Homo sapiens: one gene and its partners. The protein of the gene in region 2 purifies or fractionates together with the protein of the main gene of each other region. This does not show direct contact. Each region holds a gene or a part of one and is shown on either strand. Other genes may lie near its edges.

Region 1 (7,314 bases), on a different chromosome or scaffold from region 2:
TGCTGGGATTACAGGCGTGAACCACTGCGCCTGGCCTACACAGCACAATTTTAAAAAACACTAGGAAATTACTATTTTCTCTGATATTTTAAAATTTCAAAAAGTCTAAAAACATCTCAAATAAAGTTGGTTTACTAGAATGTTCCTTTGATTACTCCCACAACAATAAGAAAAATAAGATCTGAAAATTCAAGTTTTAGTGCTCATTTTAGTATTTGTTTGTTGTTTTGTTTGAGACATAGGTATTAAAGAATAAAAACCACTCAAAAAATCAAAGGCAGACCAGAGATTCATGAAGAAACACAACTAAGCACATACACACCCAAAGGTTAAAAAAATATTTAAAATATATTTGTATTCCTAAAATAAGTAGGTAAATACTGAAGTGAACTGGAATAAAGAAAGAGTCAAAAATTACATGCACACAGAGTAGAGGAGCTTTTAAACATATTAGGCCAAGGCTCTACCATGGTATCATAAGAGCTATTTTTAATAAATATTAATATGTAAATGTGTTTTAAAATCATCAGCTATCAGAGGCACCTTAATACAGATAAAACGTCTGCCATAAATATTAATACATCAATGTATTCTGAAAGCATCATCATGCAGAGATGTGAGTGCTGATAGCTTAATGTTCAGGTAATCATATAAACTTGTAAACTACACTCTTTAGGAAATTATAAAGCTATCACACAAAAATGTAAACATTTAACATTCATATTTCAACAGAAATAGCAGCAAATCAGGATTAAAAACTCTATGGGTAATCTCACTTTCAGGCCAAATATTTTCCAATAAATGAGCAATCATTAACATGCTTTGCCATCTCAATTAATCTTCTCCAGTAGCAAGTTAAGCATAAGGCTACCACTTAAGGAAATATGATTTAGCAAAGCTTTTTCTTTGTAAATGGTTCCCTATTCAATCTGTAAAGAACATTCTTTATTTTCACATTTTGCAGAAAAGTCCCTTTTGAATATTTAAGTAGATCACATTATAAATCAACACTGACATTTTCATATTTTATCAATTATGAAAATGAAAAATCCAGAGTTTAAAAAAAAAAGCAAATATAACCTTAAGTGATCTCATATTTGTTAGGAAGATCCTGAGTAAAACTGGCACAGCTAATCTTAATTGATAGATTCTTCCAAAATCCCTCTATGAAACACCTGGAAGATTATCAAGAAAAAAGTTTTCAAGTAGACACTGTACTCTGAGATAAGCACTATCTATATTTGAAGGGAGAATACTGACAATTGGTACCTAAAAAAGTTATAAATTTTTGTAAAGTAGAAATAGATCTAATAAAAAGATATATTTGTGTGAAATGTGTAAATATATATGTCAAAGATAAGCACTATCTATATTTGAAGGGAGAATACTGACAATTGGTACCCAAAAAAGTTACAAATTTTTGTAAAGTAGAAATATATCTAATAAAAAGATATATTTGTGTGAAATGTGTAAATATATATGTGTAATATGCACAAAGACACACACATGTGCATCTGGAAGTCATGACTGTGGATTATTACTACCAATAACTGAGAAAATTAAAAGTAGATCTATTTTGTCCATTACTGTTGCTAAGAGCAAATTTCTTAATTTCAAAATTATATTCATAATTTACCTTAACATACCAAAGCAAAGAAGAAAAGCGAAACACAAATCAAGTACAGTACTTAGAAAACATACACCTTGTAACCTTTAGCATTTGTTACATGATAGATATTATAGAAATTCATTTAAAAATTCCATTGCAATTGAATAAAAAAACCCATCTCCATTTACCTGAGAGCAAAAGGATATCTCCTTAAAATTTTTCTCCAATGCTATTTTTTTGGTGTCAGGACTGATGAGGTAAACTTCAGACTGGCCAATCTTAAAAGACAAACAAAAAAATCTAGCTTTTCAAACTTTCTCATTTCATGACCTATGAAAATAAAGAATAAAAGGGACAAGCTCCTATAAAATTCTGACTCTATCATCGTAGAAATCATTTCAAAGGTCCCCTCTTATCCTCTGGATTTCAGGTCATAAGACACATCTATTAGTGCCTTCACCTAGATAAGACAGCCATCTTCCTTGAGATGAAAGAACCAGATATCCAAAAGTTAGCAATAGGCCTCAAGATCCACACATCCCCCTAAAAACTGAGGTCTCCGCATAAGTGAACCTTCCAGAAAACAGAATCTACTCTTTCAAAGCTTCCAAGATACTTTTGAATGATTTTTACTGACAAGTCTTTTTAAATTATTGTTAAAAGAATCTACCATTTGTTTAGTACATATTACATGTGAGGCATTCACATACACTAGTGACCGGACCTTTTCAAGTTAGAGTATGAGCATCAATTACAATCCTCTTACTGCCTTGGGACATGCTAATAGACATGCATTATAGGAGACTGCTGTGTTGCAATACCCAACCTACTCTGTGTGCACACGCCCCTGCAGGCTGTGAAAGGCTGCCTTTTAGACTCCTCGTCTCTGGAGCGCTAAGCTTCTTGGGTTTCAGTGTGTGTTGGTTTCTACAGCTTTAGTTTCTCCTCAGGACCAAGAAGTCAGTGGTCACATCCTGACGCTGCCATTCTTAACTCCCAGACCCATCTCCTCCTCTAAACTCTTTACGCTTTGATGTAAAATACAAATCAGATACACAAGCTTGTTGGAAACTGGGGTGTAAGTCAAGGGGAATTATACTCTCAATGAGGGGGCCCAAGAAACGTGCATTCTGTTTGGGGCAAGGACTTTGCATTCTGAATTGTTTTTGCACACTTACTGTTTCTGAACTGTATTTCAGCCAGCAGAGAGTGGCAGGTAGCCTTTTACTCTTGTCCTTCTGTGGAGACCAAGGATGATGAAAAACTAATTCATTTTTAACATGCAACATCTTTCTAAACTAGACTGTGTCTCTCTCTAGAGTAGGAGCCAACACAATATCCTCCTTATTTGTAAACAACGAATAAGTATCTATTTGGAGTATGTTTAGTCTCTTTAGAAGTCACTGTCTTTACCTACATAATGAAGATAGTCCTTACTTATTTTTAAAAATAACCTTTGAAAATCTCATAAGGTGAGAGGCTCCAAGGCATTATTACTTAGCTATGGCTGGGTTGTAAAGAGCAAGTCAGAATCCAAAGTTGGGTGGGGCTCCTGAGATCCCTCTCCTTCCCCATGGCATCCAAAGGATTGTACATCCCATTAATTTGACTTTCTGCATGTCTGTCCCTTCCACTCCCACTGCACTTACCACAACCCCACTATCTCTCACCTGGACTACTACAACAGCTTCACTCCCCTCCCCATCCTACTCTTGCCCTCCCCCAAGTATCCTGGCTCTGTAGCCAAAGATATTTCACACTGTGTTTTATAGCATGCAGTGACTGCCCACTCCTTTCAGGATAAAAAACAAAACCCTGACCAAGACCCATAAAGTTGTGCCTGATGAAAACAACTTTCATGGGGCTGCCTCCAGTCCCAGCCCCATCTCTACGCACCATCCTTCCTTGTTTTCAGTGCGGCCATCTGGAATTATTTCTCACCCAACAGCTGTGCTCTAGGCACTACCAACGACAGCAGTGAACAGAGAAATGAAAATCCATGCCCTCTTGAAGCCTATCTTCTTGGGGGCATGTGGGACATAAAATCTTTTACTTGTTTATTTGTAATTGTGTCAAATGGTAAAAATGCCATGGAGAAAAATAAAGCAAAAAAGCAGGAAGTGAGGCTGCTATTGGTCTTACTGATACGATTATTCCTCCATGTCAACATTTCAGCAGAGACCTAAAGGAAGCAAGAGGAGGTAAGACCGTGACAACTCGAGGGAAGAATGCTGAGCAAAGGAGGCAGTCAGGCCTCTGGGATTCTCCAGGCACCAGGCACCATCCCTGCCTTTAGGGCCTTCTCATCTGCTGCTCTGTGAGCCCAGAAGACCTTCCCAGGTGGCCACAATGAAACCTTGTGTTAGGTGAAAATCACTTTCTCAAAGAAGCCTTTCCTGATTACCCTGAGAAATGCTCTCAGGCATGCTGTACTTCTCCTCCACGGCATTTACCACAATTATAATTAGATAATTATTTGTGCACTCAGTTGCCTGTCTCCCTTACTGGAATCTAAATTCCATGTGGGCAGAGAACATACTTGTCTTGTTCACGGCTGCATTTCCAGCATGTGGCAAGGGACGTTAGCACAGCAGTCAAACAGTCAGTACTTATAAATAAATGCAGGGAGCAGCTTTCTCAATGTCACCAAGGAAGTTTTTTTAAAAGATGCAGATCACAAATTAAAGCACAAATCTGACTACTCTTTTCGGTACACTAGATCAATGGTCAAAAGATGAAAACATCAGCCCTATTTACCCTTGGGTGCACCCCCTTGGTTTTAAACCTGCACACATCCACACTGCACTAACCTAGGTAGCTGGTTTTTTACCCCCTGGCCATCTCACCTGTGCCCTGAATTAGACACAAGAAGGAGACTTTATATTTAAGATAATTTTGTTCTCTACAGAACGTCAGTCAGCATTAAGCCAAAGAGAAGGCCAAGGAAGAAACTAGCTCTTCCATTGTCAGAGACCGGCTCGCTGCCGGGACAGCTCCACATCTCATCCGTTCAGACCCAGGGGACTCCCAGGGAGGGCACACCCATTCAGAAGAGCCCAGATCAGCATGGAACCAGGAACCCCACCCACCTGGGACAGCCCCCCATGTTCAGTCCTTTTCTAGCATTTGGCTGTCAATTTAACACTTTTTTTCTAAAAAAAAAAAAAGCAAGCAAGCCATTGGCTAAATTAATATTTCAGTTTGGGTATAAATTTCAAATATAATGTCACTCACAAAGCCACTCTTCCTGATTAGCAAAGGGTAAATGTTTCATAAATAAAAATATTAATAGTAGAGAGGGTGTTTTCCAACTAAAAGATTCTGTTGAAATATATCATCTGAAATTCATATATATTTTTTAAATCTCTCTGCTGGTCTCATTTACACGTTTTCACTGTTCTTTCCACACTGAAAAGGTGTCTTTATAATTACCGGGTGAGATAAAAATTACACATGGGCATGTTTCTCCCTGATGACTGTAAAGGCTTATGGCTAAAGGAAGGAGCTTATCCTAAGAATAGAATTGTTCAGCATGAAAATATATGGATTCACACATAAATCAAAAGCAATTGACTAAGAATCTTCGCTCCATAAAGCAGATTTTCTCTTGAAAGCGTATGGCAGACTGGGGCTGTGCACGAGCTGGGTGATATTTTACCGTGAAGAGCATAGTTCGATTTTCCTCGATATCTGTGGGCTGCACAATATTGTGTCCGCTAATGAGGTGGTTCTCAATGTCGCTCTCCTCGAAGGAGCTGAAGAAGCCGCTGCTTCGGAGGCCCCCATCCTGCAGCTCCTTCCTAAAGGCCAGCGAGCGCAGGCCGGGCTGGGAGAAGGACTTGCGCATGGGCCTGCGCACAGGCTCCTGGCTCCCTGTGGGCGCGGCATGGGGCGGGTTGGGGCGGGGGCTCTCGGACCCCCGGCTGCCGCTGACGTGATTGAACTTCTCGATGCACTCGTCGATCAGGGCCGGCGGAGCCTTCTTGTGCGCCACCGTCACGCGGCCGCAGAAGAGCACCTCGAACTTCTTGGAAAACGTGTCGTCGAACTCGGACGGGCAGTGCAGCTCCTCCTGCCGGGCGATCTTCCCCGCCTGACGGATGGAGCTGATGATCTCAGGCACCTGAGGAGAGAGAGAGGCGTGTTATTTGGAACATGCAGTGTGGCTGGCACTCACGGAATGAATGCACCATGCTCTTTCGGGACGCCCCGCTGGCTACTCCACTGCGGAGCACTGGAGGAGGAGCCCACTGGAGGAGGAGCCCACGGGAGGGGACTAGGAATGTCTTCCCATGGGAGGTGAACACACAGCTTCCACAGAAAAGAGAAGGGGGACGACACTTATGAAGCACCTCTTACCTGCCAAGGGCTGCGCTGGAGGATTTACATGCCCACAGCACCCTGCAAGGTTAAACCACCAGCCCGGGAACACACACAGCCCAACCTAGCAGGCCTTGGATTCAAGCCCAGGCTGGTCCCACTCCAAAGCTAAAGGCCTCCTCTGGAGAAGCTGTCGCCTCCCAGAGAAGTCTGTCTCCAACGTGGTTCACAAAACATGACTCAATTATTCTAGATCTCATGGCAGTATACTTTGGAAAGTCTTCTTTAATAAATGGTGGGATGAAGAAGACAAAGGCTCTGAAATTATCTCATAAATTATTTATTCAAATCCCAGCACCATTATTTCCTTCCATGACAACTCAGTCCTATATTTCCTAGCAGGTGAATAGTGACTAGCAAGTCAACAAAGCTAGGAGGTTTTAATCAAGGACTGAGTAACCCATGACTAATATTATCACAGCAAACAGGCTCACCAGGGATTCTTCACATGGAGACTATAAAGCTTTTGGTTTCTAATGCTGAAAATCATGATTAAAAGAATGTAATAAAAGACCTCATCTGCCACGGTGTTGTCCCTACTGCTACATCCTCTCATCATTAACCTCTGAGAAGGTTCTTCAAAGCAGCATAGACATAAAGATGAATCCGCACGGCAGTGAATGAAACAGCTGTGCAATTGCTCAGATGATGGACAGCCACAACACTAATATTTGTGGCCAGGCATGGATTTAAACAAGGCCAAGGCAGGCATAAATTTAATCTTCAAAAGGGCCTACTTTTTGTTATGACCTAACACCTAAACCAATTTTTTCCATTTTTCTATATAAGGAAAATTCAATTTAAGGCCCAATACCCACAGGCCCTATGTCTTTTTAACAACATTATAGAGAAATTTTAAAAATCCCCCTTCCAATTCAGGTCAAAGATCAACACATACAGTAAAGGAGGTGGTTTTAAATTTTAAAAGTATCCTTATATTCAGTGTTCATGACATAATTCCCAAAACCAATGACTCGAAAGATTTTTCTCTTTGTGACTTCATATCAAATACACCTTAAAGATCTCTCTGTCATAAAGATTATGACTATTCTTTCAAGGTATTTTATCACACAAAGAGTCAAAAGATCTTTAGGAAAGTTTTACATTTTAAATAATTGATACCTGATGAGACCTAAATGATTTTAAAAGCCAAAATTTCAGCCAGGCGCAGTGGCTCATGCCTGTAATCCCAGCACTTTGGGAGGCCAAGGAGGGCAGATCAGGAGGTCAGGAGGTTGAGACCAGCCTGGCCAACATAGTGAAACCCCGTCTCTACTAAAAATACAAAAAATTAGCTGGGCGTGGTGGCAGGTGCCTGTAATCCC
Region 2 (7,314 bases):
CACGCATGTGTGGCCCCAGCTTTTCAGGAGGCTGAGTCCAGGAGGACTTGGGTCCAGGAGGTAGAGGCTGCAGTGAGTCACGACTGCACTACTGCACTCCAGCCTGGGTGACATAGAGAGACCCTGCCTCAAAAACTGACAGCCAAAAAAACCATCTCATTCTCTTGGAGAAAGAGGAAGAGGCCATTTTTTCTCAATCAAATGTTTTTAGCTTGGCAATTTTAGATATTAGTGTGAATTACAGATTGGGATTATTTCTATAAGCAATGGAAACAAATAATAAAAAGACAAAAATGTTTCCTGGCAGTCATTATAATTTTATAGAGGCAATTTAAGATAAATTTAAAAGAAACAATTTTTTCAGGTGTTTTGCAAAAGCTACACTTAACTTTGCCCAAACTAAAACTGTGTAAAAATAGGTAAGTGTGAAATTTTTAACAATTTTACATTTTTTCTTTACCAATAAAGTTAACAACAACAAAAAAATCACCTCTTCACTAAATATTTTCTTCTTGCTTAGTCTAAATTCTGATCCAGAAGTGGCTTTGTGGTTACTAGAAACTGAAAGTAAGGTTATTATGTCTATATTCAGATAAAGCATATGCTCTATTAAGCTACTTATCAATTTTTAAGATGATCCAAATAATTATACACACACACACACACACACACACACACGTACGTTATCTTTTCTACTCACAGTCCAAAAGCTTTGATAATCTGGAGCATATTCAACAGCTGTTTCACACATTTCCTGCACCTCGTCCTTGGTTCCTCTTTTTGAGAACAATCTGAGGTAATGGCACCAAATTTCTGGATTGTCTTTGTTATTTTCCAATGCTCGCGCCAGAACATTTAAAGCAGAATCCAAGGATTCTGAGCACTCCCTGTATATATAAAAGAAAAGGTGGAAGTGCTTTTTAGAACCTGCTTGAAAATTTAAATAGGGCTAATCCAATGAGTCAATTTTAAAATTCCATTTTCTACTAGAATTTACCAAGAAGTCAGGATCACTTATGAAAAGGGGTACTAGATTTCAGATTTTAAATCACATGCCTAAAAGTTTCTGATTTTCCACAGACCCAACAATTTTTTTAAGTGAATGTTCAGTAAGCATTTACCACAGATAAAAGTACAGTGTTATAAAACCACTAAGATTATCAACTTCAAATGTGCTTTATGTCCATATTCAGCAATACCTTTTATGATTTACACCATTTGGGAATGCGAAAAGTTAAACAACTCTCTCTCAAGGCCAGCTACTGCAAGTACAAAATATCAAAGCTTTCAGTATAATAGTTCTTTTCAACGGTCAAGGGCTTGCTATCTCTTGGAGAAGATAATTCTTTCTCATGATCCTATTCATAAAATAATGTATGGTTCTTTTGGCCTTCACTCAGTAAATGAGTCAGAAAAGAAAACACTGTAACTTATCCCATTAACATGGAAATGACACACAGGAAAGTTAAATAAGCAACACATCCAGGCATGTGTGGGTTTATTAGCACTCTGCAGCACTGCCTTATTTAAAAGCTTTAAGATAGTCAAATATTTCAAAGAAACGTGTAAAAAAAAAAAACCCTTGAATTATTGTAACTATAAAGTTATAATTATGAAAAGATTATTCTTGGCTTATTTCTACTACCAAGAAGTTAGAAGATGCCATTTGCAATACAAACTATTGGTTGTATAAGTTATTACCATTTACCTTATTTAAATACATATAATTTAATATGACAGAGACAGAAAGAAAATTCACCATAATTTGGAAGTTCTCAGATAAGCTTTAAATATCCATTACAAATTAACAAAATTTAACCTGTTCCACCATTATTTTATCATAATTTTATTAACAAACTATGACTACTATGATTTTTTTAAAAAACAATCAACCATTCCACTAGTCAGAATTTACTGTTTTAACTAATCCTACTTTGAAATAAGAGCCTACTGGAGTAAAAAACTTTAGTATAATTTATTACCCATACACTGAGCCATGCACACAAACTCAAGATCTAATCTTAAACTTGTCTAATAGCTTTTAAACAATAAAATGCTTTTGGCTTTGTCAAAAAACAAAGACTCCATTGATACTAGGAAAGAAACCTGACTGATTACCATAGGTAAAAAAACCTCAAACATAAAAATATAAATGTGCAACTGTTTACACAAAGATTTGAAGTTGACCTACCCCTCATTTTGATTCAAGTACTTGTACGCAAGCTTGAGCCAAAGTTGTACATGAGAAGGATTTTCAAGCACACTTGCTTCTAAATTAGCGATGTCATCAGTCTCATTTGTAAAGTATCTGACATCATCTGGAGTGACAACTGTATCCAGAGCTGGAACATTTATTTGGTTCTCTGGCTGGAAAGCTATTTAAAAAAAAAGTATTATTAGCTTCACATTTTCTTTAGTCCACAGATGCAAGAAAAAGAAAACAATTGGTCTCATCTTTAAAGTAACTTAAAAACCTAAAGATTCTAATGACATGTACTAGCTCACAGCTTTAAGGTAGAGCTATGACATAATTTATCACCCAAACCAGGACCCTTCTGAGTGGAAAGAGGTGCTACTAAAAATTACACCAGAACAAAAGGAGTAATTAGAACTCTGCTATTTTAAGGCTAAGTGACATTACCTTTTCAGTCCACTTAACAGTAACTATGATTCAACTGCTTTTTCATTATTATCAAATGAATTCACATTTGTTAAACTGCAAATTATAATTAAGAAATTAAAAGTCATAATTTATAAAGATTATTCTACTATATCTAAACTAGAAAAACAGTGTTACGTTAGTGTAAATAAGTACATAATAGCATACATCTCTTGGATACTTGCTAATTCACAAATAATGCAAACTTGAAATTAGAAAGTAAAATGTGCCTAACATACAGGCACTCATTCATACATTATTTTGTTCATTAGTTCATTCATCATTTGTTCATTCTCATCTTTTGAGCCTTCTGCATGTCAGAAAACATATTCAAAGATGAAGTAAAATAGAACACCTGCCCTTAAGGAGGACACAGGCTAGGCAGTGGTTCTCAAACGGGAGCTACCTTCCCCACCAACTAATGTATGTTTGGAAATATCTGAAGCAGTCATAATTATTAACTAAGCAGTGCTCCTTGCATTTACTGGAGAGGAGCCATGAACACAAATATCCCGCAATTTCAGAGGCAATCCTGCACAGTGAATTAACTGTATTGTCTAAAAACCCAATGGCATCGTTTTTAAAAAAAATTTTTTTTTAACCAGGCAGGCTGATACACCAAAGGATTAGCAAAGTGTTAAATAAAGATGGAACACCACAATTTAATAATTCTGGATCTTAAATTACATAACTTCTTACCATACTTAATTGGTCCTGTAGACTGTTCCTCATCACTACTGAAGCTATTATCTGAAATAGGTTTTCTCCAAAACTTTGGCTTCCACTTTCTTTTATCTTTGTAGGTTGTAAATGGAGGAGCTAAAGTAGATAGGAGAAGATTGTTAATTGATATAACTAGTTTTTTTTTTAACATTTTGAAGGATACTCAAATAATATTTGAGAAGAACTACATTCACTCCATCTTAGAAATGATACGTATTTTTTTTTTTTTTTTGAGATGGAAGTCTCACTCTGTCACCCAGGCTGGAGTGCAGTGAGTGCAGTGGCGCGATCTCAGCTCACTGCAACCTCCGCCTCTCGGGTTCAAGTGATTTTCCTGCCTCAGCCTCCCAAGTAGCTGAGGCTGCAGGCACACGCCACCACCACCCGGCTAATTTTTCTATTTTTAGTAGAGACGGGGTTTCACCATGTTGGCCAGGCTGGTCTCGAACTCCTAACCTCAAGTGATCAGCCCACCTCAGCCTCCCAAAGTGCTGGGATTACAGGCGTGAGCCAGCGCACCCAGCCTGGAATGATATGTATTACATTAAGAACATAATACCAACAAAATTTCTGTCATACAGAAACTAAAAAGTCCTTTTCAGAAAGAGATACAGTACACACACACACACACACACACACACACACACACACTTATATATGTACTTACTATGACCTTTACTTTCATTGATATTGCTAACAAGGAGAACAGCCATCTGGTCCATTGACATTCGATCTTTGTTTACTCCAAAAAGTTTCTCAACATATTTTTCTGAAATAAGAGCAATGCAATCTTCATGATAAATATCAATTACAGAGACTAGGATAATTAAAATGTATGACGTGAACTAGTTTAAGAATTAAAGGCGATTATATGGTACTAGTCAATAACACCTATGGCATTTGAAAGGGCAAAGCCTGTATTATCTTAACTACTATGGCAAATCCTACCACATCATATACCCCATTTGGGATTAAAAAAAAAAAAAAGTAGTTCCTAAAATGAACTAAGTAATTAAGTTAAAGTCCCAAATTGGGAGCGATAAAATAGATTCAGTGACATTACAATCACTCTGGGCTGTGATAACACCAAATTTAGTAATTATTATTTTCTTTACTTCCAAAAGATTTGTAGCTTGAGGTTTATTACTTGGCACCAAATCTGAGAAAAAGCTTAATAATATTTGCTCACAAGTGTATCAAGTCTTATTTCATTATAGAATTGGAAACAACAGCCATCGTAATTTCCAGCCTTCCTCTATTTTTTGAAAACAATAAGTAAAAATAGGCTCCTATGTTAAAATCAATAGTAAAGTTTCTATACAAATAGCTTAATATTTTCTTTTAAATAAATGGAACTAAATATTTAAATGAGCTCTGTCCAAAGAACTTTCTGAAATGTTGGAAATGTCTTAAATCTGTGCTGTCCTACTGGCATGCACTTGCCACATGTGGCCATTGGGTACTTGAAATGTGGCTAGTGTAACAGAGGAAGTAAATTTTTACCGTAATTATACTGGATACAGCAAATCTAGATAAAGTATTATGGGTAAATACACTGAATTATAGTAAGTATTTTACAATGTCAACAACTAATATAGAATTTTTAAGTTGCCTAAATTCAATTTTCATTTGGGAGAGAATAGGAAGTCTTTAAAAACCTGCTGAAGCAGTAATTTCTTCATTAGTACTTGTCTCTGCACAACCAATCAAAGACAGATTATATGACAGAATGTCCTGGAATAACTGTTTTCGGCTAAGTGTATAGTCTTGTATATGCTGCCTAAGATAAAAAAAAACACAGAAAAGATAATCATGTACATATCAAAGTTAAGCAAACAAGACCATTTTTCAAATTACAAAATGTTCACAAAAACTACTCACCATTGACAATCATCATCATTACATGTTCCTGTTAAATCAAAACGGCAGAAACACTGATCCGGTTCAATCATATTACTGTATGATACTGAGCTCAGGGGAAGTTTTTCCTTGGTTCGATAATATGGACTAAATCTAAGGTGAAGAGAGTGAACAGGTATATTATGCCCAACAAACATTCCTCAGAAAACTAAGAAAACTTTAGTTTTTCTTTCTCAAGTTAAAATTTCCATGCTTACTATTTATGAGCTATTTATCTAATTAAATTAATGCCAAAATTAATTCGAGAAAAGACCTAGAATATCAAGGGATAGAAACAAGTTGCTTTTATACCAAGAACATAAAATAGTTTAAACAGAAAAAAAACCTTGTATTCTAAAAGTAGTTTCTCACCACATAATAAAATACTATATAATACCGGTATTTCTTACACACATTACCAGCCAAGACAAGAAAATCTGGAAAAAGTCTATATTACCTGGAAGGTGCTTTACAATTTTAAGATAAAAACATGCAACCCTTTAACATTCTCACAACTTTTAAAAGTCTAAATGGGGGACCCACAAAGTTAATCATATGAAAATGTCTAAATAAATTTTATGAAGGCTGGCCAATGCACTTCTTAGACTGAATAACAGTAAAATTAAAAATCAAAAATTAAAAAAAACCTCTAAGATTCCAATTATTTTTCCTAAAATTCCTAACAAACAGAAATCCAAAATTCTCCACACTTCTACCAATAGCCAGAAACTGGAATTTGATACGAACTGATAAATCCAAGAGTGTGGTTTGAGCCCAACGGCAGGACACTTAATTTTTATGTTCCTTAAAAGGGTAAGTCTGGTTATCAATAGCAATGATTCAATTGCTTTTTCATTATCATCAAATATTCAAGATAAAATATTAAAAACCAAACAGAAATCCTGAAATTCAAGCTTATTGAATCTTTCTTTTATACCTGTAGGACTTAAAAACTAGAAGAGGACTATGGTAGGGTCTAAAAGGACATGGCTTCACTTCCATTGTTTTACTTTGTGCTGTGACAAAATCCACATCTACAGAAATCTCCTGCAAAAGAAAATAATAATTCTGTAAGGCAAATAAGGCTGGGTGAATTCCAGATTTTAAAGAAAATATGAAATGTTCAGTTACCTGACCATGCAAAACCTTCTCTGTAATGCCTGTGGTGGTTTTTAAAATCAGCTGTTTTAGGCTGTCAGCTTTTGAATACAATTTTTGCAATTCACCAATTTTTAACCCTAGAAAAAGTTCTGGTTTTTCTACAGTATTTTTATTAAGTTTGTTTATGCATTCTTTGTTAGCAGTATCAGTGTGCTTAAGGTTAGGTTTAGTAAAATAATTGGATTCTAAAAAAGATCTTCTTCGCTCTCTGCTTGAACCAGACAAAATTTCATCATCAACATCATTTTCTTCAGTGTCCAGGGTTAATTTATCTTGTGTCAGATCATGAAGTGAGGGTTGAGGTAAAGAAAATTCGGGTTCCTCTTCCACAACTGGAGAGATATTTTGTTGTTCCTTTGCTTTAAGGGCACGGGCTTCTTTTAATTTTTGAATTTTCAGGGCATATTCATATTCTAGCTTTTGTAACCGTCTTTTCTCCATAGCAATTAGTTCTGCTGAATGCTTTCTTGGACTTGATACTGGAGAACTGTCCAGTCTCATCATTTTGTTTGGCTAAGGGAGAAAAATGATACACGTATTTTACATCACTGTGATTTTATAAACAATTTTTGGTAAGATAATTGTGCTATCCCCACCATACAATGCCAACATTATAAAACTAAATCAATATGGAGAATAAAACAGAGTTTAACATAAGTAGCCAAAAGTTTTGCTAGTTAATCTATGACTTATGACAAAAACAAAGTCAAGACAAAATAATAAAGTAGACATCCAAAAATGTGGATGTCATTTAAAAACAAAGCTTTAATCTTAATCTCTTGGAATTTACAGCAAAGAGTTACTTTATATATACATCTTACCCTTAAAACTATCATAAAAACTTTCTGCTTTCCAAAAGTAAAATATTTCTA
Region 3 (7,314 bases), on a different chromosome or scaffold from region 2:
TAGGGATTTTTGTTCCTTTTCTTTGGAGTTGTTTTCCAGAACTATAGAACCCACTAAGTGTCCACAAATACAAATGTTTTTGATTGAGTTAAAAAGTAGAATTCCTACCCTTAGGGAGTATACTATTGGCTCATAATTAAATGTGTCTTATTGGTGAGGTTTTAAGAGCATATGAGGCTATCACTGTGAACAGCAACTGTCACTGTACCATGGATTCACGGAATTGACAGAGAAGAGATTTTTCAGGTGGCAAATGAGCAAATGTTTCCTATCCAAACATCACCAGAGTAAGAAAAATCCCCATCTCATCAAAAATATGAGCCAGTACCTACATCCCTGAAGAGTCTTTCTTGGTACTCAGATTAAACAGAACACAGATTTCAACATAACTCCTTCCAAGTGCCAAGACATAAAATCCTTGAGCTTTTTATTTGGCTCTAATAAAAACCTGTATCTTTTTGGACAGCCAGATTATCTTACCACGTCCCTCCCCCAAGATACATTCAGGTCTTCAAGCCCTGTGTGAATTTCACTTCTCTAGGGAGTTGTCCTTGTTTCTCCTCTCCTCCATGGTGACTCCGCGTCCCCTGGGCACCAACACACCCTGAGCATCACAGTGCACTCACTAAGACACAACAGTGTCTTTGTTATTATAGCACGCATTCATTTTTATCTCTAGGGACTATAAACTTGCCAAAGATAAGCACTTATGAATTCTCAGATCCACTTTTTCTATAAAAGCTAACCCAATCCATTTTAATAACATACATACAATATTTCCACTTAGTCATCCGAAACCTTCCACTTCATGTACAAGAGTCGCTAGATTTTATGTTAATAAATTAACACAAGGAGTTCCACGCTATTTTTAAATTTTTGATTGAAAAAGAATCTGAGAGACACAGCTGGATTCTCAGCGAATGTACGGACTAGAAAGATAAGTTGTTTCCTGAACCTTCAAGACTTTTTTGTATTATTTTCCTGCTAAATTGCATATTTCTGTCCTTCAGAGAAGTCTTGAAGAGATCTGATTTCCTTCTGTTCTATTGTGTTGGTGTGAACGCCTTTGCAATTGAATAGGAAGCCGCGGAGGGTGGCAGGAACAAGTCAGCAGAAGTTACACAAAGTGAGGTGTGTGCTTTGTGACTGGTTAGAGCTCTAATGAGGCCAAGGTCATGGGTTCAACCCCTGAAAAGGCAGGTACTTCAGTTAATTCCCTGCCAAAGGACTGCACCCCTAAACTACTGCAGATTTCCTAGAAATCCAAAGAAGTGAAGGTTGGGGATGTGGGTGGGCTAACAATGCAAGTTCCTGAGAGGCAAAGGAGACCTCAAAATGCCCTGCCTCCCTCAAGTGTCAGAACAGGCCACTCATCAGGAGGAAGGGGCCAGTGCAGGGGCCCCTGCCCTGACACAGCCACAGAAAAACGCTGAGTGAGCAGGAGGATCAGAAGAGAGCTCAAGGTCTGAATCTGCCAAGTAAAATCAGGGTGCCTTGTTCTAGGTGTGTCTAGTTCCCTAGTGATCATCAGGACACACATACACATGTATTCAAAGATACGTAACCAAACCCATAGAGGAGCTGTCTGTGAGAAGAGCAGGAAATGAGAGGGAACATTCTGAAAAATCAAATTTGCCTTGCATATACCAGATAAAAGCATGCCTTGAACTCAGAAGTATGATTACCTCAACTACATCTGAGGTCCAAAAAAAGATGTGTGTGGATGGGGGGAGTCAATTTAATTATTCATGACTCCAGGAAGACAAAGCATGCTTTTAATTATTGATTGCTTCCTTCGAGGACAGAAATAAAGTGGCATAAAACAGTAATTATTTCATATTTTTATACTGACAGGGAAAAGAGGAGGGAATATTAACCTAAGTTCAAAGCAGTAAGCCTAAAACACCCAAATACAGTAGAAACTTCCTTTGCAATTCTCTCACTATATCAAATCCTAAAAGAGACAATTTTGCTGTCCTGAATTCTCACCAATTCTGAGTTCTCCCAAAGACCAGGTTCCTGCCAAACTATAGCAGTGAGCCCTGGATCTTCTCAAAGAAATTTAACATATTTTTACAAGAACCTTCTCACAGGTGGTGTGCAACTTGCCTGTTCTACAGGAATACCAACCAGGGGCTGCCTCCTATAGCTGCACCATAAATTCCATTTCCACAACTCAAGAGATTTAACTTCTGCAGAGAGAGATCCTGAAGAATGGATTTGCTTAAGGAAAAAAAAAAAAAAAAGACTATGGGCTGATGCTGCCCTATCACACGGCACAGAAACAAACTCTTTATATGTAGGTATAAAGGCTGAGATGACTAACTCTGGTTTAGTCCTAGCGTAATATTAAAAATATTCCAAGCCTACAAAAGGACCAAAGCCTCATGTTCTTTTTATGTTTTATTACATAATAATTCATACATATAAAAGAATATGTGTAGCTCTTATGCAAATTTCAAAGCATTATAATAAAAACAACATGTTTAAGTCCATATCAGCATAAAATATAGATCTAAGATGGCTGAATCAAACATTTTTTAAAACTTTAAATAATTCTTTAAACAATGCATTCGTTTGTTAAATTGTTGGCCAATTATAAATTCTATTCAATCAAGGAGATATCAGAGACGGATTAAGCCCCCAGTCTCCAGGGAACCACACAGTAGTAATGTAGGGTGAAGTCCCTGGGTGAACCACACAGTAGGTTCAGGCCAAAGGGGGGCACAGGAAGATCACACGAGGAACAGGGAGATTTGGCTCCATCCTTGAAGGTCATGGAGTCCGGCCTTTAAGAGGCACTCAATAAATATTTGACAAAAAAGGTGTGAAATTCAGAGAAACCACTTAACTTCTCTAACACTCAGTTTCTTTCTATGTAAAATGGAATAAGGCCCTGTGTATACCAGCCATCCTTGGAAGGATCAAAATAAGAATGTATCTGGAAATGCTTTATGGGCTGCAAAGAGCAATATGATTTAAAGAAATGCCATTTTATACAGGTTCTTCGAATTTTTTTTGATTGAGAGGATTCTGTGCAATTGCTTCGGGAGGGAAAGGTGTTAGATGGTGGTTTTAACTCACCAGGGTTTGAATTTCACTTCAGGATATCCTGCTGTTATTCTGTCTCTTTCATCTGAAATCGGTTCCAAACGTGCAGCTTGGTCACTGAGCCCCTATAAGCTATAACAGAAATTATGTTCCCCGCATATGAAAAATAACGTGAGTTACTGGCACATTTGAAGTCTTAAAGGATGGCTCCTTGCTGCTGTTGAAACAATTGTGCTGAAAGTAAAAGGCAGAAGGAACCCTGATATCCTTGCAATGTGGAAAATTCTGTTTTCTTCCATTTCTCTCTATAAATATTTGTTTTTTCTTATTAAAAGAATATTAAAGTGCCTAAGACTTTGGAGTGAGAAAAGGCTCTTTTTTGAAGAAGGTTTACCTGTGTAGGTATATTATATTATTTCCATTAGGTTTTGAAAAATACTGAAAACTAATCCCAGACCCCATCATTAATTCTGGGGAACCCAAGGTTGAGAACTGCTGGTTGTGGCTATGGGTCAACAGGCCATCTTTTTTTTTTTTTTTTTTTTTTGAGACATAGTCTAACTCTGTCTCCCAGGCTGGAGTACAGTGGCGCACTCTCAACTCGCCACAACCTCCACCTCCCGGGTTCAAGCGATTCTCCTGCCTCAGCCTCCCAAGTAGCTGGGATTACAGGCGCCCGCCACTATGCCCAGCTAATTTTTGAATTTTTAGTAGAGATGAGGTTTCACCATGTTGGTCAGGCTGGTCTCAAACTCCTGACCTCAGGTAATCCGCCCGCCTCGGCTTCCCAAACTGCTGGGATTACAGGCATGAGCCACCGCGCCCAGCCAATAGGCCAGCTTAATGGTGACTCCACTGGTCAACAATTTCCAGTATTTCCTTCCCAGTGTTCACCCCTCCCCACAACTCCATAAAAACGCCCCTAAAATTATAATATTTTATCACACAATTTAATTAAGTTAGAAACATTTAGCCAGCAGAGTTCATCAAACAAGTATGAGATCAGGCCAGGCGTGGTGGCTCATACCTGTAATCCCAGCACTTTGGGAGGCCAAGGCAGGTGGATCACCTGAGGTCAGGAGTTCAAGACCAGCCTGGCCAACATGGTGAAACACTGTTTCTACTAAAAATACAAAAATTAGCCAGGCATGGTGGTGCATGCCTGTAATCCCAGCTACTCACCAGGCTGAGGCAGGAGAATCACTTGAACAGCGGAGATTGTGCCATTGCACTCTAGCCTGGGTGACAGAGTGAGACTCCATCTCAAAAAAAAAAAAGAAGAGAGATCAGAGTGATTTTGATGGCTCACTATGTGCTAGGGTTGTACTGACTTAGCTTGGTTGGTAGGGTGGGTATTCATACGCTTTTTTTTTTTTTTTTTTTTGAGATGGAGGCTAGAGTGCAGTGGCGTGATCTCAGCTCACTGCAACCTCTGCCTCCTGGGTTCCTAGGTTCAAGCCATTCTCCTGCCTCAGCCTCCCAAGTAGTTGGGACTATACTACACCTGGCTAATTTTTGTATCTTCAGAGGAGACAGGGTTTCACTGTGTTGGCCAGGCTGGTCTCAAACTCCTGACCTCGAGTGATCCATCTGCCTCAGCCTCCCAGAGTGTTGGGATTACAGGTGTGAGCCACCATGCCCAGTCCACACTTTTTTATTTTTTTTAAGAGACAGGGTCTCACTTTGTCTTCCAGGCTGGAGTAAGTGATATGGCTTCCTGCAGCATCAACCTCCTGACTCAAGGGATCTTCCCACCTCAGCCTACCCAAGTGTAGCTAGGACTACAGGCCCAGGCTACCACAGCTGGCTAAACTAAATAAAATTTTTTTTGTAGCGAATGGGGTCTTGCTATGTTGCCCAGGCAGGTCTCAAAATCTTGGCTTCAAGCGATCCTCCCACCTCAGCCTACCAAGTCCTGGGATTAACGGCACTGGCATTAGTACGCACATTTTACAGATAAGGGAACCTGGGAGTTCAGAGAGGTTAAGTGATAACTGGCCTAAAGACAAACCATCAGGAAAGAATGAAACCAGAATTCAAACCCAGTCCACCTGCCACAAAGTCCCTGCTTTGCGGTTTCTACTGAAATAAGGTCATGCACTAACAACATTTTAGTCAATGACAGACCACGTGAACAAAGGTGGTCATAAGACTGTGATACCATATTCTCACTGTGCCTTTTCTATGTTTAGATATGTTTGGATACACAAATACTTACCATTGTGTTACAACTGCCTACAGTATTCAGTACAGTAACATGCTGTACAGGTTTGTAACCTAAGAGCAACAGGCTATACCATACAGCCTAGGTGAGTAGTAGACTCTCTCACGTAGCTTTGTGTAAGTACACTCTAGCATGCTGGCACAAGGACCAAACTGCTTTACTAAGGCAGTTCTTGGAACATATCCCTGTCATTAAGTTATGCATTAATGTACATGGAAACCTTGAAATACTGAAAGGTGGAAAGTGAAAACAGCCATTTCCTTACCTAACATACAGATAGCTGAATTTTGCATTCTTTAATGGCACTTTTTACAGGAAATCTGTTGTATGTATGTTTTAGTCTTACCACCTATTTTATAAAAATACATCTAAAAAAGAAGGGGAACCCCTTTATTAGAGCATGTATTCAATTTTTTTATTCAGAAAACATGATGATTTAAATACATCTGAAGCCATTTCTCCCCCAAAACAACTCTCAAAGCATTCTCAGGAGAGCCAGAGTCATAGCAGTCCTGGGCACAAGGTCCCCTTCTCATGCACAGCTTCAGGCAGCCAGAACCAGGGCTAGTTCAGAGAACTTCAGGAAAACAGCATCAGGATTTCATGGCCCTTAATACTGATTAAGATCAACTAAAAATTATTCTGCCGGTTTGATAAAACAAGAGGAAAGCTAAGATGAATACGCTAGAGAATAAATCTGGGGGACATGAGGAAAAAAAGCCTTTATAACTGCTGAAATAGGACACCTTAATCACAGGGTTTGGCTCAGGCAAACAATTTAATTTTTAAAACAACTAATCTAAGCCAGACATGACCGAAATTCACTGAAACTGGGTTCTAACAGCTCTATTCCAAGGAGGCTAAATGGGCTTTCCTGGTTCCCCCTACACTCAGAACAAACAAAGAAATGTCAATAATCTCATCCTTAAATAACCCATGAGCCAAGAGAACTAAAGATCAAAAGGGAGACTAAAGATCAAAAGATCTGCCTACCTGAAGAATGGCACATAGAATGAATATTTAGATGGAACACTGGGTTAAAGCAGATTTCTCTCCTTCTGAGACAAATCACATTGGGGGTTAAAATATGTCTAGGCCAGGCACGGTGGCTCACGCCTGTAATCCTAGCACTTTGAGAGGCTGAGGTGGGTGGATCACTTGAGGTCAGGAGTTCGAGACCAGCCTGGCCAACATGATGAAACCCTGTCTCTACTAAAAATACAAAAATTAGTCGGAAATCACTTGAACCCGGGAGGCGGAGGTTGCAGTGAGCCAAGATCGTGCCACTGCACTCCAGCCTGGGCAACAGAGTGAGACGAGACTGTTTCAAAAAAAAAAAAAAGTCTAAAACTTAGTTTAAAATACAACATACTTGGCCCGGCGCAGTGGCTCATGCCTGTAATCCCAGCACTTTGGGAGGCCGGGAGTTTGAGACCAGCCTGACCAACATGGAGAAACCCTGTCTCTACTAAAAATACAAAATTAGCCAGGTGTGGTGACGCATTCCTGTAATCCCAGCTACTCGGGAGGCTGAGGCAGAGGAATTGCTTGAACCGGGGAGGTGGAGGTTGTGGTGAGCTGAGATCACGCCACTGCACTCCAGCCTGGGCAACAAGAGCGAAACTCTGTCTCAAAAAAAAAAAAAAAAAAAAAAACCACACCAAAAAATGGTGATAAATGGCCAAAATGTGTATGTGTGCATTTATGTGTGTATGTGTGTATAAAGTGTATCTGAGAAGTCTGATAGGGACAGCTTCCAAGTGGAAAAACTTTATATAATATTATTAGGAGCTGCCTTCTAGCAGTTCAGGCAAGATACGCATGTTCTCCAATGGCACCCACCAGACTGAGAAATGTGATACAAATTAAAAATTCCCCAAAGCAAACCTTTGTCTGAATTGCCCTGACCGTAAGAATCCCATTCTGTTGAGACTTAAGACATTTTCCATTATTTCTCAATTTATAGCATATACTTATTCCTACCTAAAGAAATCACTTTTCTTTTCTTCAAAAAAAGTTAGATCCTGATACAATTAGTA
Region 4 (8,222 bases), on a different chromosome or scaffold from region 2:
AACAGCATATTCGTAGCACTGTTTACGGTAAATTACTGGAAACAATCTAAATGTCTGTCAGTGGGGGAATGGTTAAATAATCTATGGTATATCCATACAGTGAAATACTGTACAGTCATTCAAAAAAATAAGGAAACTATATACTGAAGTGGAAAGATTCCCAAGACATTTTTAAGAAAACAGAGTGTACAGTATGCTACCATTTGTGTAAAACAGTAAGAGGAAAGATATGCATTTCCTTGAATGCCCACAAAAAATGTCTACAATGATATACAAAACTAGTATCAGTGGTTATTCCTTTGGAAGACAGGGAAAATGGTAGCTGGGGGAGGGAGCAGAACCCACCAAAAATGCTCTGATTTGCTTGGAGGAGGGCCCAGGCGTCGGTCTTAAGTTCTGGTGGTTCTGATGAGAGTGTTGGACTGAGAACCACTGCTTAGTGGACAGCCTTTGCCTATTTTCCTAGCTTCATTTTGTGTCATCACTCTCCGTGTTCCTGGCTTCTGGGTTCCCAAAAGCGGCCCTGTTCCTTTCTTCCTCAAGGTATTCACATCTGTTCCTTCTGCCCGGAATATTGTTCCCGTGAGCTTCACCTAGTAACTCCTGTTAATCCTTCACCGTCCACCTCAAAGGTCACTTCCCCATGGAAACTTTCCCCAGTTTCCAAACTACATCAGGACATCTGTTTTATGCACTCAGAGCTGCCTGTACTTCTCCCAGAAATTAACACAATCGTAATGAGATAAATGTATATTTATGCATGTATACATCTGTCACCCTCCTTAGACTATAAGGTCCAGGCATGCAAAGTTGTTTTTACTAATCTATTTCCATACCTAATCTAGTGTCCAGTTGGCAAAACAGGCCTTCAGAAATCTGTTAAATAAATAACTGTTCCCGCCCTCAAGCTTAGTATAGTAAACACCTAAGCAAATGAGGACAATGCTGCGTCACTAGTGTTAAGGCAGCAGTCTGCTCACAACAGTGGTTCTTAACTAAGGGTGATTTTGGTCCTCCTGGGGGACATTTGCGATGTCTGTAAGCATTTTTGATGTTCACAACTGTGTGTGTGGAGTGCTACTGGTATCTATTCCTCAGTAAAGGTTAGAAATGCTGCTAAACATCCTACGCTGCACATGATAGCCCTCCACAACTAGAAATTACCTGGCCTAAAATGTCAACAGAACTACAAATGAGAAACTCTGACTCAGAGGACGATAACACTCAAAAGAGCTGTCAATTGCACTTCTGAGGGTGGTGATTTTTAAATATCTGTTTTCTTTTTGGGGGATGGGGGGTGTCAAGCAAAGCTTCAGGGCAGAGGTGAAGCTTCAGCTGTGTGTTTGAAAGGTAACAGGGGCCAGATCAGTGGGGACTATGTTTGTCAGGAGCAAGGAGGAGTCTCTGAAGAGTTTAAAAGCAAAGTTATGATTTGAACAGGTGCCCCCAAGTACCCTATACTCCAAAATTATTCATTTCCTTTTTTCCTTTCTCGCTGAAACAAAACTTCCATTCTCTCAGAGTAGCTGGTTTCAGCTGAACATTAAGGCCAAATTAATTCAGCCCAAGATAAAGTCAGATAGGCCCTTCACTCTCCAGAATGTTAAGCTACATTTTAAAATATGCAAATACTTATGAGTACAAATAAATCTTTAACTGCTCAATGTTCAGGTTGTCAGTGCATAAAGCTATTTTTGAACTCAACAGCCAGATTGGCCCCAGTAACACTTTCCCAAAGCTTTGTTTTTTAAAAACCTTTTTGATCTGTTTCCCCGTTCTCCTAGAAATCTCCTAGATTTCTGAGCTCCTAGATTGTATAAAAGATCTAAGTTTTTTTCCACAAGTATCTCATGCCATTAAGTTCTTCTGCCAGAGGTGATAAAAGGGCCATTTGGATGCAATAAATGTAAATAAATTGTGTGTGTAAATTAGCAGTGGCTTAGAAAATTTTTAAAAGGCTTTCATGGACTACTGAAAGAAACTGAGATAATTTTTAACATACCACCAAGAAAAAAAAACAACAGTTTTACTACAACACAAGCCGGCTGCCTACTGAACTGGACGCCCATGCTCTGACCTAGTATGGCAATTCTTAGGGTCTAGGCGCTGGGTTCTGTTTACAAGAAACTAAGGCCTGAGACTAAGGAAGAACAAAGAAAAATGCCTGGCACCAAAGGTGTGGGGGATGTTTTGTACATAAATGAAGATTTGAGGAGGAATACTTCCTCAGATGTTGGAAGGAATTACTCTTTTTTTGCTTACGTGTTAAGAATTTAATGTTTTCAGGCCATTTCCTAATTAGAAAATACCTTATAATTTACAAACAATAATTTGTCTTCCCCTACATTTGCTGACCACCAAGACTGGATAAAATTTCCTTAAGCTTTACCAGAGTGGGAGGACTGGGAATAACGGGAGCACAACAGAGTTCGGATGCAACATCAACTCCAAGCCCGGCCAGCTGGTTTCCATCGAGAGGTCCCCCAGGAGAACGCCCCTCCGCGGCGGCGGCGGCCAGGTCGGCGCGGGAGAGACCCACCGAGGCGCTCCAGCGCGGCCGCGGTGCAGGACCAGGGGCCGCCCGGCCTCCGTTTACCTTTGTTTCAGGTACCCCGGCTCCTGGCGGGCCGGGAATCCCGTCCGCGGCCCGGAGCTGGTGACACATCCTTCTTTGGCCAAGTCGGGCCGAGGTTGGGCAGGGGGCGGGGAAGGAAAAGAAAGCCTCAGCGCCTAACGACGTGACTCTCAGTTCTTCCAAAACGCTGGCATTTGTTTCTCTGCCAGGCTTTCCTGTTAACAAGTTCCCGAGGGCTGTGCGGGCGAACTGGCCCAGGAGCCCTGAAAAGTGGGAGGGCCCAGGCCGCCCCCGCCTACCCTCCTCCGCGGGCGCCCCTGGGGCAGGCAATTTCCACACCTCCCTGGTGCCGTGTCCCGGGACCGGCCGGCCGCGCCGAGGCAACGCACCGCACCGCACCGCACCGACTGGAATTCCGACTTCCACAGCCCAATCAGCTCCGTGTGGCCCCTCTGGCCAGGCCGGTCCCCGCCCCCAGGTCCCGGCCCCGCCCGCCCCGGCCTCCGCGCGCCGCCCCGAGCCTCGCCACCCCCTCGGGCCGGGACGAGGGAGCTGAAGGCTCCAGGCCGTGCGGCCAGTGTTCCTTTGCCTACCTCGTTGCCCGCGGCTCCTCCTCCGGCGGCTCAGCTCGCGGGCAGCGCTTGCCTCCAAGCCTCCCCGCGGCGCGGACTCTCGGGCTACGAATGCGGCGCGTGAAGAGCGGAGGCCCGAGCGCGCCCCGCCCAGCCACCCGCAGGCCCCTACCTCCTTCTCCTCCTCCTCCTCCTCCTCCTCGGCCCCACCCTCGGCGGCCGGCCCGCCCGGAGCCCCGCCCACGCGCCAGGCCCCGCCCACTCTCCGGCCCCGCCCCCAGCCTACGCCCCGCCCCTCTGGCCAAGGCAGGAAGGGGGCCTCCAGGGGCGCCGCGAGAGCCGCTGTGGCCTCGGCGAGGGCAGTCTCCTGTATGGCGGCGCCGCGGGGATGCGATTCGTGGTGGTCGCTGCTGTTTGACAGATTCGAGTCTCTTGCTCGGATTTATTACTGTTATTGTCATCGTCAATATTGTCATCGTTGTTATTGTTATCGTCATTAGTTGTGTTGCCCTCTTCAAGGGGCCTTCAAGGAGGCCCCTTGAGGGCAGCGCGCTGCTGGCCAGACATTCCCTGGCGCTCCTGTCTTCCCACAGTCCTGCACCTGCGCCACATTTCACTCAGCCCAAGAAGTTGTGTGAATTTTAAAAGAAGTGATACTTATTTTTAACTGTTATTGTTAACTGTTACTGTTAAATAAAACACAAATATAGACAGCCATATAAAACCAATGTACAGCTTAATGGATTATTCCGATACACACACCCTTATAACCACTCGCCAGATTTATTAATAACACCGTGTAATATGGTCTGCTCTGAAACAGAACCTCATTAATAGCTGGAAGGACATAGCCTGGAAGGGCCTCCCAAAATTGCCCTCCTTCTAACTGCCACAGTACTCAAATGTGACAGGTCCATAATCATGCCCTCTCCAAGAATATATTTGTAAAATGGAAATTTCTCCAGAATTAGGAACCTCCAATTGAGTATCTTCGTAAAAATCTTGATAAAATGATAAATCTATAAATATATAAGCATATAAATAACAATAAATAAGTCAATCAGTTGGGTTGAATACCATGAGTAAGGAGCATGGGGGTGGGGGATGGGAGGTATGTAAAGACTTAAAAGGATTAGGTGGGCTGTGAGGACAGGTCCTGGGCACCTGGGTTGTTCTCACTGTCTCCCCAGCACCTAGCATAGCACCAAGCATATACTAGGTGCCATATGTGTGTGTGTATATATGTGCATTGTACATATATGCACATATATGTGTGTGTGTGTGTATAGCACAAGGAAAGAAAAAATTATGTAAGATAACCCCAAACAAGCTTTACATACTGAAATTTCACCCAAGGTCAATCCTCCCAGTAGCTAAAGTGTGCTCTGTGAGATGCCTTGATGCCCTAGAGAGAAAGAGACCATTTTACTTTCAACTTTCTACTGCTTTTCCATTTCAAAAGCCCTTTCACATGCATATGGTATCTTATTTGAGACTGAGAGCAACTCTGTGAAAAATGCAGGGCAGGATAGGACTCTGCAAAGGTCACAGTGCAATGCATATCAGTAAGAAGGAAAAGTACACAATGTACCATAAAACAATGTTAAAACTGCTGACCCTGGCAACCTGGATTCTTGGTTTGTCTCAACAGTTTTATTGCCAATGTTTTTACATTAGGGCTCCTTTGGCCCTTTTGCCATGCATTTATACACATTATAACTTGAATGTATAAAGGACACAATACGTGACTGGAAATTTGATTCAATACAATAGAGTTAGTCTCTCTGTCATGAGGACCATGGTGAATTGGGGCTAGAGAGTTGCCAATTCACCACAATGTATTGAGTACTCAGACTGTACTAGGTGGTAGGAATACAAATGATATAAAATAAAGAAGATACAGGGGCTGGGCGTGGTGGCTCACGCTTGAAATCCCAGCACTTTGGGAGGCCAAGGAGGGTGGATCACCTGAGGCCAGGAGTTTGAGACCAGCCTGGTAAACATGGTGAAAACCCATCTCTACTAAAAATACAAAAATTAGCCAGGCGTGGTGGCACGCGTCTGTAATCCCAGCTACTCAGAAGGCTGAGGCGGGAGAATCACTTGAACCCGGGAGGTGGAGGTTGCAGTGAGCCGAGATCTCTCCATTGCACTCCAGCCTGGGTGATCAGAGTGAAACTCTGTCAATCTTTGTTCTCAAGGAGCTTATGGCCAAGTAAGGGAGAAAGATTTGAAAATAAATGTTTAAATTACATGACGGTAGGGGAGCAGTCATGAGCACAATTAATTCTATGAGGTATAGGAAGAGAGTAGGGCAAGTCTTATTAGACAAGAAAACATCTGAAATTTTTTTTAGTATAAAAATATCAAATATTGAAAACAGAGACAGAATAATATAATTAACTACTATGCACCCATTACTTGGCTTCAACAATTATCCCATGACCAATTTGTTCCATCTGTACCCTCACCTTTTCTTTCCCTCCTTGGATTATTTTAAGGCAAATCACATGGAGCATTATTATTTCATCCATAAATATTTCACTATGCATCTCTAAATGATAAGGTCTATTTTTAAAAACAACCACAAAATCATTAAATTGTCTTTTAAAGTAATAATTTATTAACATCTAGACAGTGTTCAAAATTTCCCAATTTTCTCATAAATGTTTCATGTAGTTTACTTCTTCCAGTCATGATCCAAACAAGTTCCTCACAATGCATTTGGTTAAAATGTCTTACACCTTTTTCTTTCCTTGTACTTTTATATTGAAGAAATAGATTGTTATAAGGAGTTTCCCACATTCTGCATTTTGCTGATTGCTGTGATGTTCTTTAACATGTGCCTCTAACCTTGTATTTCCCATAAAGGATAGTTACTAGAGGCTTGATCAATTTAGAAAAGTATAACCCATAATGAATAGAAAAATCAACAAATCAAAAATAGACCAGAACTATCACAGATGTTAGAATTAGCAGAGAAAGACATTAAAACAATTACTATGGCTGGGCATGGTGGCTCAAACCTGTAATCCCAGCGCTTTGTGGGGCTAATATGGGTGGATTACCCGAGGTCAGGAGTTTGAGACCAGCTTGACCAACATGGTGAAGCCCCGTCTCTACTAAAAAATACAAAAAAATTAGCCGGCCATGGTGGCAGGCGCCTATAATCCCAGCTACTTGGGAGGCTAAGGCAGAAGAATCGCTTGAACCCGGGAGGCAGAGGTTGTGGTGAGCCGAGATCGTGCCACTGCACTCCAGCCTGGGCAACAGAGTGGCTCCATCTCAAACAAAAACAAAAACAAACAAACAAACAAACAAAACCACAATTACTATAACTATATTCCAAATGCCAAAAAAGTTAAGTACATATTAAAAAGGGAAGATGTAAAAAAGACACAAATTGTATTTCTATAGTTGAAGACTATAATGTCTAGAATAAAAATACATTAGATTGGATTAATGGCAAATTAGACATTACCAAAGAAAAGATTAGTCACATCAATAGAAATTATCCAAAATGAAACACACAGAAAGAGAAATGTTAATGAAAAGAGCATCAGTGAGCTAAAGAGCAACTACAAGTGGCCTAATATGTGGAATCTCCAAAGGAGAGGAGTGAAGACAAAAAGTATCTGAAGAAATACTAGCCAAAAGTTTCCAAAATTTATGAAAACTATATACTCACAGATCTAAGAAGTGCAACAGACTTCCAATTTCCAGTACAGCAGACGATAGACTTACATCCAACCATATCAATAGTCATATTAAATGTGAGACTTCTGGTTCCAAAATGGCAGCATAGAAGCAAGCCGGCTCCCCCTTTTCCCCAGAAAAAGAAGACCAAACCCAAATACACAACACCAAGATTACCATCAATAATATCCCAAAACTGAAATATGAGGATGAGACAGTTTGCAGGGTCACAAAGAAGTGAAAAAGCTCCAAGCAGATGGTAAGAGAATGACTTCCATGTTCAGGATGCCCCTCCCCCTATTCTGTCCAGCACCAAGCATTCAAAAAGTTTCCTCCTAAATCAGTTTATACACTGGAAAAAGTGAGATCACGGTGGACAACCAGCTCCCCACCATCTTGGGATCCTTGGCAGGAGACTTGTCCCTGTCTTAGCCCACAGAAACATTGCAAGTCCCTTAAGGGAGAAATATCCCGGAGGATGGGCAAAGGCAAATCGAGAGGCAGAACTACCATCCCCAGAACTGGAAACTGCTCTGTAACTGAGCCAAAGGAGACATTAAATCAGAGTGTCTGTTCAGCAGCAACATGATGTAGGAGGTACATTCTGCAGATACTTTGGGCACAAACCCCTAGCCAGCCTTCCCACATTGCTGGGATATCCCAGGATACCTTCCATTTACTAGAGCTGAGGTGGACCTGGGCTTAAGACACCACCTAGAGCTGAAAAGGAGGCAGAAATGTAGCAGTGAAGAATCTTTAAGCAAATATATTCAATAAAACCCAAAACAAGTCAGACAGAGAAGACTGGAATAAACTACCCTTTAGTGCAAAGACATGGATATACATCACAAGAAACAATAGCAAACAGGGAACCACAAACTCCCCAAATGGGCAAAGCAAGGGACCAGTAACTGACTTTAATGAGATGGCAATATGTGACCTCTATGACCAATAGTTCAAAACAGCAATTTTGGCTGGGCATGGTGGCTCATGCCTATAATCTCAGCACATTGTGAGGCTGAAGCAAGAGGTTCACTTGAGGCCAGGAGTTTGAGACCAGCCTGGGCAACATAGCAAGATTCCATCTCCACAAATAAAAAATTAAAAAACCAATAGCTGGGTATAATGGTGCACATCTCCAGTTCCAGCTACTCAGGAGGCTGGGGTGGGAGGATCACTTGAGTCCAGGAGTTCGAGGCTGCAGTGAACTATGCTGGCACCACTGCACTCCAGCCTGGGTGACAGAGCGAGACCCTGTGTCAAAAATAAAAAAAATATAAAAAAGCAAAAATAGAAAAAAATCCTCCAAAATAGCACTTTTAAGGAAACTCAGTGATCTCCAAGATAACACAGAAAACCATTTCAGAAATTTATCAGAG

What was found.
Region 1: the proteins of ZFC3H1 (region 2) and TBC1D1 purify together in Homo sapiens (affinity purification with mass spectrometry; 2 studies listed by BioGRID and IntAct, with this or other methods). This does not show direct contact.
Region 3: the proteins of ZFC3H1 (region 2) and SMYD2 purify together in Homo sapiens (affinity purification with mass spectrometry; 2 studies listed by BioGRID and IntAct, with this or other methods). This does not show direct contact.
Region 4: the proteins of ZFC3H1 (region 2) and PPP2R3A purify together in Homo sapiens (affinity purification with mass spectrometry; 2 studies listed by BioGRID and IntAct, with this or other methods). This does not show direct contact.

The regions. Positions count from the first base shown.
Region 1 is NC_000004.12:38,012,927-38,020,240, reverse strand, and holds part of TBC1D1 (TBC1 domain family member 1), read right to left. Parts: intron 5,733-7,314; coding exon 5,268-5,732; intron 2,848-5,267; coding exon of another isoform or gene 2,788-2,847; intron 1,888-2,787; coding exon 1,798-1,887; intron 1-1,797. UniProt on the Homo sapiens protein: May act as a GTPase-activating protein for Rab family protein(s). May play a role in the cell cycle and differentiation of various tissues.
Region 2 is NC_000012.12:71,625,560-71,632,873, forward strand, and holds part of ZFC3H1 (zinc finger C3H1 domain-containing protein), read right to left. Parts: intron 6,956-7,314; coding exon 6,413-6,955; intron 6,329-6,412; coding exon 6,219-6,328; intron 5,396-6,218; coding exon 5,264-5,395; intron 5,163-5,263; coding exon 5,041-5,162; intron 4,152-5,040; coding exon 4,050-4,151; intron 3,479-4,049; coding exon 3,359-3,478; intron 2,376-3,358; coding exon 2,192-2,375; intron 888-2,191; coding exon 701-887; intron 1-700. UniProt on the Homo sapiens protein: Subunit of the trimeric poly(A) tail exosome targeting (PAXT) complex, a complex that directs a subset of long and polyadenylated poly(A) RNAs for exosomal degradation. The RNA exosome is fundamental for the degradation of RNA in eukaryotic nuclei.
Region 3 is NC_000001.11:214,283,871-214,291,184, reverse strand, and holds part of SMYD2 (N-lysine methyltransferase SMYD2), read right to left. Parts: intron 1-7,314. UniProt on the Homo sapiens protein: Protein-lysine N-methyltransferase that methylates both histones and non-histone proteins, including p53/TP53 and RB1. Specifically trimethylates histone H3 'Lys-4' (H3K4me3) in vivo. The activity requires interaction with HSP90alpha.
Region 4 is NC_000003.12:135,960,796-135,969,017, reverse strand, and holds the start of PPP2R3A (serine/threonine-protein phosphatase 2A regulatory subunit B'' subunit alpha), read right to left. Parts: upstream 3,291-8,222; 5' UTR 3,169-3,290; intron 3,021-3,168; exon of another isoform or gene 2,390-3,020; intron 1-2,389. UniProt on the Homo sapiens protein: The B regulatory subunit might modulate substrate selectivity and catalytic activity, and might also direct the localization of the catalytic enzyme to a particular subcellular compartment.